2 separate regions of the Homo sapiens genome follow, and region 1 is reported to be linked to region 2. Evidence: microRNA targets listed by miRTarBase, many of them from high-throughput screens and not tested one by one. Region 2 holds a microRNA gene; the other region holds the end of a gene's coding sequence.

What was found. The annotated mature microRNA hsa-miR-1827 reads UGAGGCAGUAGAUUGAAU and lies in region 2 at 1,418-1,435, shown strand. An mRNA with a match to its seed (bases 2 to 7 or 8) in the 3' UTR can be bound and repressed. Matches are read on the target gene's strand: a 7mer-m8 pairs with bases 2 to 8, a 7mer-A1 pairs with bases 2 to 7 and ends in A, and an 8mer does both.
Region 1: the mRNA of NMUR1 is a reported target of hsa-miR-1827. Seed matches in the 3' UTR shown: 8mer at 1,302-1,309.

What each region holds. Positions count from the first base shown.
Region 1 is chr2:231,520,764-231,525,763 of GRCh38, reverse strand. NMUR1 (neuromedin U receptor 1) reads left to right here. Exons shown (of 3, transcript NM_006056.5): 3 at 339-2,577. The coding sequence ends at 721. Among named protein-coding and RNA genes, the nearest start is that of NMUR1, 7.2 kb to the left of the region's middle.
Region 2 is chr12:100,188,515-100,193,768 of GRCh38, forward strand. It overlaps MIR1827 (microRNA 1827), which reads left to right and starts at 1,370; the gene lies at 1,370-1,435.

The sequences.
Region 1 (5,000 bases), not on the chromosome of region 2:
CTCAACAGCCACAGCTAAGTGTCACCCAATTTCATATTCCAGGGTGAGAGAATCTGATTGGGCCGGCTGGGCTTAGGTGTCCACACCTGGTCCAGTTGGCTGTGGTCAGAGGCAGGGATATGCCCCATTGCCCACAGTCAGTGACCATGGTGAGGGCAGCCTCTCTGAGAGAGGCATGGCCAGAACAGGCAAATTTCCAGAAACTTCCACCTGGGTGATAGGTGAGGGTGGCCTGTGGGATAGGAGAGGATGTGAAAATGGGTGACCCAAACTGAAGCCCGGGAAGGCAGCTGAGGGGCCTCGGGCGGGCACTCGGCCTCCCTTCTCTGTCCCTGCAGTTGTCCTGGTCGTGGTGTTTGGCATCTGCTGGGCCCCGTTCCACGCCGACCGCGTCATGTGGAGCGTCGTGTCACAGTGGACAGATGGCCTGCACCTGGCCTTCCAGCACGTGCACGTCATCTCCGGCATCTTCTTCTACCTGGGCTCGGCGGCCAACCCCGTGCTCTATAGCCTCATGTCCAGCCGCTTCCGAGAGACCTTCCAGGAGGCCCTGTGCCTCGGGGCCTGCTGCCATCGCCTCAGACCCCGCCACAGCTCCCACAGCCTCAGCAGGATGACCACAGGCAGCACCCTGTGTGATGTGGGCTCCCTGGGCAGCTGGGTCCACCCCCTGGCTGGGAACGATGGCCCAGAGGCGCAGCAAGAGACCGATCCATCCTGAGTGGAGCCTTAAAGTGGCTTCACCTGGAGGGGCCAGAGGGTCACCTGGAGCTGGGGAGACACATCTGCCTTCCTCTGCAGGGATGCCTTCACGTACTGTCCCTAGTTCAGCCTAGAAATTCTGACCAGCACCTCAGTTTCCCTCAGAGGGAAACAGCAGGAGGAGGGATCCCTGACTGCTGAGGACTCACACTGACCAGACGCCACACCTTGTGCTTCTTATCTGTCCACTGCCACTCCCCCAGTTCAAATCCTTACCCTGCAGAAATATCACAGTTAGCTGGGGCTCAGCAGTCCTCCCTCTGGGGACTCCCTGCCACCACTGCCAGTTTCTGAAACGGTCCCACTGGGTCCTCACTGTCCTTCCCAGTTCCTGTTCAGGTTCTGGCAGGGGCCCAGGGATCCAGGGGACCTGGTTCCAATCTCAGCCCTGCTGTCACCACCTTGTCATGCACCATCAAGCATATCAGTCTACCTTTCTTTTTTTCTGAGACAGAGTCTCACTCTGTCGCCCAGGCTAGAGTGCAGTGGCGCGATTTTGGCTCACTGCAACCTCCGCCTCCGGGGTTCAAGCGATTCTCCTGCCTCAGCCTCCCGAGTAGCTGGGACTACAGGTGAGCCCCAGCATGCCCAGCTAATTTTTTTTAATTTTTAGTAGAGACGGGGTTTCACCATGTTGGCCAGGCTGGTCTCAAACTCTTGACCTCAGGTGATCCGCCGACCTCGGCCTCCCAAAGTCCTCGGATTACAGGCATGAGCCACCACACCCGGCCAATCAGTCCACCTTTCTAGGCCTTGGTTCCTTGCCTGAAAAATGAAAGAGGCGCTGGCTTTCCACAGTGTCATGCTTTGGCACTTTAGCTATGGTTTTCTTTCTGTGTGTGTGTAAGCCACTGCTTATAATAAAACCAACAATACCCTCAGACTGAAAGGGCGGAAGTTATTATCTGCATCTTTATCAACCCCAAGCCCCACTTCCTCCCTGACCTCCCCATGCCCTCCCCAGCCTCTCCCAGCACAAGTGGGGCAAAGCCAGCATGCAAGCAGACCCCACCACCACAGCCCACCTCCGTCCTCACATACGTGCAGGCTGGCTCGGGAGTCCAGTGAGCAGAGCATTGGACTTGGCTGGCCAGAGGGTCTCTGAGGGCAAGAGACATGGCCAACCAAGGGCAAGGAGTGACCCTGTGGAGGGTTCTGCCGAACTCAATGCAGTGAGAAGAGGGACAGGGACAAGTAGTCCTTGAAACTGAGCCCCATTCTGAATCCCTGCAGGCCAAGTCATTGCTCAGCCAGGACTCAGTTCATGGAGGAAACTTGTCCTGCTGCAGTCCCTGAGTCTTGTCCTCCTGAGAGGAAGCCCTGGCTTCCAAGGCTGGGAGCTGGAGGATGACCTTCGGTCGGTCTGTCTGGGTTCTCCCTGCAGACAGCTTCCTAGCTCATGCCCATAGCTCATGCTCCCTGCCGAGAAAGTGGAGGACGTGGTACAGGGTTGCAGATGTTTAGTTTTAAAAATTCAATTATAAAAATAATAAATGCTCATGATAGAAAATTTGGAAAGTGCAAATAAGCAAAAATGAAAACAATTTTAAAAATGTAAAACCTCTCTTGCCAGGGAATGGGGGAAGGGCAAGTGAGGAGTTCTTTAATGGGTGAAGAGTTTCAGTTTTGCAAAATGAAAAAGTTCTGGAGATCAGTTGTGCAACAATATGAATATACATAACAATACTGAACTATACACTGAAATGGTTAAGATGGTACATTTTATGTTATGTGTATTTTACCACAATTTTTATAAAAAGAGGATTAAATCTAAAGGAAAGAAAAAATTAAAACCACCCATAACTTTACTCTGAAGCAGTAACAGTGGCATGTTTCCTCCTAGTGATGTGTCATATGGTGGTTTTATTTTATATACACAATACACATAGACAATTTTGTATCTGGCCTTTTGTCCAGTGGATGTTCTATCCAAGCTCACGCTTGCACTCATTTGACTCATGGGATCCACTCTGATGGGCCTTGGCCAGCCCTGGGGGAGTAGGACTTGCATAAACCATCTGGGTGAATTCCCAGATGCTGGCCAGGAAGGCCTGGATGCCCCCTGCCTACTAAGTCCCTGGCTCGGGGGAGGAAGAGCCGTCCTGCCTGTCAGTCCTGCCCAGTGGACAAGTTCTGGGAGAAGCACAGGGGCTCCCGGACAGAGAGCAACAGAGGCTGGGGGTGGGGAGTGGGGACACTGAGGACAATGGGAGAAAATGGGAGAAGTGGGGACCTCGTGGAGGCCAGAGAGTGGATGAGGGAGCTGAGGGGAGGCTGGTTGGCGGAGGTGGTTTCCTCAGTGGGGGGCCCTGAGCCTGCCCTGACTTGAATGCACAGTCAAGCCCTGAGTGGGGACAGCTCCTAAGAAGTGGGCCTTGGGGGAGGGTGGGGGATAGGGGAGGGGAGTGACTGCAGGGACAGGGAGATTCTGCAGAGAAAGGAGCCTGTGAAAAGCTGTGCAGAGCCGTGAGCACCTGAGTGCTGCCCCTGAGCTCCCAGGGAAGTAGCCTTGGGGTGGGAGGGGGAGATGCCGGATCCCAAACTGCAGGCTGGACCCTGAAGTTGTTTCTCAAGACCAGCTCTGGACTCCCAGAGGCCTGCTTCAACCACAGTCAGAGGCACCTCATGCTCGAGGCACCCTGGACAGCATTATGAAGGGCCTCCATGTGCAGGCAGCAAGCAGACGGGCAGTGGGGTTGTTAGAAGGGTGCCCTCTGGGCCGGGCATGGTGGCTCATGCCTGTAATCCCAGCTCTTCGGGAAGCCAAGGCAGGTGGATCACCTGAGCTCAGGAGTTCAAGACCAGTCTAGGCAACATGGTGAAACCCCCGTCTCTACAATACACACACACAAAAAGTAGCCAGGTGTGGTGGCATACACCTGTGGTCCCAGCTACTTGGAAGGCTGAGGTGGGAAAATCACCTGAGCCCAGGAGGTCGAGGCTGCAGTAAGCCAAAATTGTGCTACTGTACTCCAGCCTGGGCAAATTGGAGTGAGGCCCTGTCTCAAAAAAAAAAAAAAAAAAAAAAGAGAAAAAAAAAGAAGGGTGCCCCTTTGTGAGCACCATGTATGTCTCCGCAGCACGTCAGCAACAGGTCCTGTCAGTCACTGGTTCCCATGGAAAACGGGAATAGCAGATCTGAACTCACCCCTTGAGAAACAGGGATGGCAATGGAAAGGGCAGAAGCAAGACCTGGCAAAAACACCGGTCATGCTGGGGCTGCATTCTCCTTGGTCCCCAGTGCTACTCCCAGGTCAGGAGGCCTCCATGCTTCTCAAAGTATCTAGCTCATCTGGGGCTCAAGTCACCTCCCCTTCCGACTGAGGTCACCATATCCCTCCTCCTCCTGTGGAGTTCAGGCCCTTTCTACTTCCCCTCTTCTCCACTCCTGCTGCTTTCCTGGGTGACGTCAGAGTCCATGGGTGACCCCACTGCTGCTCTGGGTGCCAGCTACTGATGGTTCCTGCAGCTCTGGAGACCCCACCCCAGTCTCCTAGCCCCTTGGTCACATCCTCACTCCCTGTGCCTCCAGGTGCTCTCCCATTTCAGAAAGTGTGAGCTCTTGACTGCTACTGCCTCTATCCTGCTCTCTGCTCCTATGACACATTTATTCTTTTATTTTTGTTTGAGATGGGGTCTTGCTTGGTCACCCAGACAGGAGTGCAGTGGCACAAACATGACTCACTGCAGCAGTCAACCTGCTGGCCTCAAGCAATCCTCCCACCTCAGCCTCTCAAGTAGGACCACAGGTACACATCACCATGCCTGGCTAATTGTTTTTCTTGTGTTGTAGAGGCACCGTCTCGCCATGTTGCCCAGGCTGGTTTGAAACTCCTGGGCTCAAGCAATCTGCCCACCGTTGGCCTCTTAAAGTACTGGGATTACAGGCGGGAGCCACTGCATCCGGCCATATTTATTCTTTAACCTCATCTAGACTTCCAGGTTCTAGACGGCTTTCTCCCAATCCATCAGCCTCCTCTGAGCTTCACTTCTTTTCTGATCCCACCATCAGTTCATCTACCCTACTCTGCCAGCGTTCCTGAGGGTGAGTACACTGGAATAATTCTTCCCTTCTCAGAAAAAGGCTTAATTTCCTTGAAAATTGAAAGTCCAAGATTAGTCTCATCAACAAACAAAGCTGCATATGCCTACCCTTCCTTCTGTTAGGCATCTACTCAGCAAAGGTAAAGTGTGTAGCACTACACATCTGTTCTCTTCATTACCAGGTGGCATTTCCA
Region 2 (5,254 bases):
AACTTGAGTGGTGACCCACTGTGGGCCAGGATATCAAATTAAGAAGATAAGAAGTCAATTTTGAGGGGACAAGCATTTTTTTTAGTATTAAAAGAGAAAATAGTACTTAGCTTTACTATATGTAGCAGTGACATTTTTCTTTCAGTTTTATGTACATACTGACAGTATACATTTACATACAAAGGTGTATTATCTGCTGTCGGTTCCCAGTCAAAAAAGTGAACAACACTGTGTCCGAAGGTAACATCCTTCCCAGTGTCCAGAATTGGTTCCTTCTGGTGGGTTCTTAGTCTCGCCAACTTCAAGAATGAAGCTGCAGACCTTTGCGGTGAGTGTTGCAGCTCTTAAAGGTGGCACGGACCCAAAGAGTGAGCAGCAGTAAGATTTATGATGAAGAGCGAAAGAACAAAGGTTCCACAGCATGGAAGGGGACCCGAGCAGGTTGCCGCTGCTGGGTGGGGTGGCCAGCTTTTATTCCCTCATTTGTCCCTGCCCACATCCTGCTCATTGGTCCATTTTACAGAGCGCTGATTGGTCCATTTTACAGAGTGCTGATTGATCCATTTTACAGAGTACTGATTGGTGTGTTTACAATCCTTTAGCTGGACACAGAGCACTGATTGGTGCGTTTTTACAGAGTGCTGATTGGTGCATTTACAATCCTTTAGCTAGACACAGCGCTGACTGGTGTGTTTACAATCCTCTAGCTAGACAGAAAAGTTCTCCAAGTCCCCACTCGACCCAGGAAGTCCAGCTGGCTTCACCTCCCACCAGGAGGCCAAACAAAAAGGACAGTGCTGAGAGGAACCATCGTCCTGCTAGGGAAGGGAGTGTGGCACAAAGGCAGGTGGGTGTGGGCAGACCCCCCCTGCCACGGGTGTGCAGGGCAGAGGATGATGAGCCCCAAGCAGCAGGAGCAGGAGCAGTAGAGCAACTCTGCCCCTGAAAGGGTCTGGAGCCTTCCCTCATCACTCTTCCTCAAGTCGATGCTGGACACCCACTATGTACCAGGCCGTGTGAGGCACTGGGGTAAACCAGAGACAAGACAGACAGGGTCCCTGCCCCATGGAGCTCCCAGCCTTGCAAGGGAGCTAGACCACAGATGAGTACACAAAGAAATACAGTAACTACAGGCAGTGGTAAGGGCTGTGAAGGAGAAGCACGGCAGTGAGGAATGGGAGGAACAGGGAAGGCTTCTCTGAAGAACGAACAGAAGTAACCAGAGAAGAGACAGCCCGCCCTGCAAAGGGACAGCCTGAGGCAGGGCCTGTCGGGAAGACAATACATCTGAAGAACTGCAAGAAGTCAAGTGGGCCTGCAACAGAGGAAATGACAGGAGTCAGACCCCATGGGACCCTGAAGGCCATGTTCAGCAGCACAGCCTTCAGCCTAAAGCAATGAGAAGCCTCTGAAAGGCTGAGGCAGTAGATTGAATTGATTCAGGTCCCTTAGAATTGGGTCCCTGCAACAGGTGGACCCAGGACCGGCAGAGAATGCAGATAGGCGCCCCTCCTCAGCCCCCAACTCTAAATATAACAGAAGACATGGCTCAGTTGCTCCCTTGGTGGCCCTGGACAAGACAGGCTGAAGTTCTCTGAGCCTCCGCTTCCCATGCTGAGTCATGGTGAAAGGTCTCTGAGTCTACAGGCCAAAGCCACTGCTCCTCTCATGACTGCAGTGATTTCCATGGACAGTGTTATGCAACGGCGGCCCTTCTGATACGTGGGGCCCTGGGAGCGTGTGAACTGATCGAGACCAAGAGGACTGATGGGACACAACTGCTAAGCACAACCTCATGCTCCTGGGAGCTATCAAAGAAGACCAGGCACCAATGCAGCAACACACACACACAGCCCAGCCAACTTCCCGCAACTGCTGAAACTCCACGGGCCCAAAAGCAAGTCGCCTTCCTTCCTGCTTCCTTCTCTAGAAGGTCTGGCTTTAAAAATGTCACTGTGAGGCAGCAGCATGGTGACTACATGCCTTGTCTTTCTTGGCAGACAGAGCCATGCCTTCCAACGAGGAAAATTACAAATACCACGTTATGGCTCCTGGACAGGAACAACTTCTCCCAATTCACCAAACATCTGTGTGCCTGCTTTGAGCTGGTTTGCGCCCTCTGCTGCAAACAGGGGCTGAAGAGACGAGTCACTGTCACGACTTTAGAGTCCTAGACACTAAAACCATAATAGATTCTTGGGAACCCCCGCCGTGCTCACAGATAACTCTTTCTACCAGGCCTGAGTGGGTCAAGAATGAAGCAAAAACTAAGAGTCAGAGCAGGGCCAACTGCAGGGCCCGCAGAAGACCTGTGGGAGGGAGGCCTGGAAGGAAGAGCACACCTTCCCGGCCAGCTCAGCCCTCACAACTGCCCTTGAGAAAGGCACCCTGTCCACTCCACCCAAGGGAGTGGAGACACACTTCACCTACTGGCTCAAAAGAGTCAGAGGGGCAACAGTGGCAGCAATGCCAGCAGGCCTGGGGTGTGTAGCCACCATTTACAGAGCACTTACAATCAGTCAGGCAGTGTGCTAGGCATTTCTTATTTGTAACCTTAACAACACTCTCACTGATCCAGAGAGGGAGAGGTTTACACACACACACACACACACACACACACACACACACACACACACTCCAAGAGGATATGAGGGCTTAAAGCTTGGGTTAGGCAATAAGCATCTGGCATCCTCTAAGCATGAAAGGCACAGTAGTGAACTATACTGACAAAATCTCCTCCTAGGAGGTGATGCTCTAGTAGGACACAACAGCAGATGCTCAAAGACTAGATCAGGGAGCAAAACCATCCTGAATCTCTAGCCGACTGAGGGCCCCCTGTGCTGGCTGGTGAGCTACTGCCTACTGGACAATCATGAAAGCCACAGTCTCCCTAGGGATCCTCTCAGCTCCTTGCCCCTCAGATGGTCTCACACAACCGAGTGCTCAGGATGTTTACTGAACTGAGCACTTTAGGCAGAGTATTTCACAGAACACTAGTTAGAAGCCACTAATTAGTCACGACTACCTAGTTTACCATTTCCACAATACATTCATTCTGTGAAAGTAAACGAAACCCAGCTGAGGGCTAGCCTGATACGATATAGGTAAACACCCAATCAAATATCATTAAGACCCCACTACATAAATACCAGAACTGAAAATTGCTAATGAAAATGCCCTTCCCTCTCCCAGTCTGAGATACAATGGCAGGGTCCTTTTCTTTCTTTAGAGGAAGGGGTTGTTACTGTCTATATTTTGTTCTGACTGGAGGTGGGAAGTCTGCACCCCAGTGCCTCAAAGGTAAAAGCGTCTGACCAAGGACACCTGTCTACCCTCATCAGATGCCTCAGTGAGGTGGGAGCTGGTACACCTCCACCCCGAATGCATCTGACCCCTCCTTTCATTTCTCAAGAAATTGTTATCTCCATGGTGGAAGGAAACTGGCAATGTGCATACAAGCAAAGCAAGTGCAGCAGGAGAGAAGTCAATGCTAAGGGCCATTAGGAATCCTTCAGGAAAGGAAGTCCACCGGGGTGGGGCTGGCCCCAGCCACACATACCTGCCAAAGTGAGCTTCATCCATCACAGCACCCCCAACTCAGAAACAATTAAGAAGCAACTGCTCCAAATAGGTTCAGCTTTGCATTTATCTACTTTTAAATGTTTGCCAGTACATAACATATAAATACTTCAACCCTTCATACACAAACAAGATAATCCTCCAACCTAGTTAAATAAAAATACTAGGCATGACTAAACCATCATCAGTGCCACGGTCTGAATGTCTGTGTCCCCACAAAATTCCTATGTTGAGACCTAGTCCCCAAGATAATAGTAGTAAGAGTGAAGCCTTGTGGGAAGTGATTAAGTCATGAGGGCAGACCCCTCTGGAATGAGATCAGGGTCCTTATAGAAGAGGCCAGAGTGGTAAAAGGGATTTCAGGAGAAAAATACACTTAGCTAGGTAGCTAGATACATACATACATATATATGTATACATACATGGATATATACACACATATATATGTATACATAGATGGAGGCCCCAGAGGGAACTTGTCTGTCCCTTCTGCTGTGAGAACACCGCTACAAGGCATCATCTCTAAAACAGAGAGTGAGCCCCCACCAGACACCAAATCTGCTGCTGTCTTCATCTTGGACTTCCCAGCCTCCAGAACTATGAGAAATAAATTTCTGTTGTTCATAAGCTACCTTGTCTATGGTATTTTATCACAGCAGCCCAAATAAACAAAGGCAATCAATTTGGGAGAAGAAGAAGAAAGAAAAGAAACGATTTGTCAAACTCTGCTTAAAACTCTTCACTGACTCCATAGCTCTTAGGACAAAGACCAAAATCCTGCCCTGACCCAAGCCCTGCCTCTTCCAAAGGCTATGTCCCCTTCACCCCTAGCTGCCACCAGGCACTCCTTGAGTCCCACATGCAAACAGCACCCCCACCTAAAGGCCTCTGTTTATGCCACTTCCTCTCCCTAGAACACTTTACTCCCCCTCTCCACGCCCCCCAGTCAACACCAACTCGTCCTTTGTGTCTCAGCTGGAATGTCGCTTCTTCAGGAAAGTCTTTCCTAGCCCTCCCCAACCCCTAAACCACATCAAGATCCTGAACTATACATGTACTGCCTCTCTTTCCTTTCAAACTTCCTAGCACTGGTTGGTGTTTGTTATATTTTATTAATATCTGTTCCCTGGATACTGACAGCTCCACAAGGACAGGGACTATCTTGTCCAGTCATATCCCTAGTGCCTAATCACACACAGTGAGTGAGTGAGTGGGAAGCTCCTGAGGCCTTCCTAGAACGCAAGTCAGTGAACTACAGCCTGGAGTCATTTCCAGCCTCTGCCTATTTCTGTACAATCTACAAGCCAAGAATGGTTTTAACATTTTTATTTTGCTATTTTGTTTTTTTGAAACAAAAAACAGCCTGTCACCCAGGCTGGAGTACAGTGGTGAGAACACAGCTCACTGCAATCTCTACCTCTTGGGCTCAAGCAATCCTGCCTCAGCCTCCCAAGTAGCTGGGACTACAGACATTTGCTACCACATCTGGCCAGTTTTAAAATTTTTATAGAGATGGGGTCTCACTTTGTTGCCCAGGTTGGTCTTGAACTCTTGGGCTCAAGTGATCCTCCCACTTTGGCCTCCCAAAGTGCTGGGAGGAGTACCGGAGTGAGCCACTGTGCCCAGCTAACATTTTTAAATGGCTGAAAACAATTAAAAGAATATTTTGTGAAAT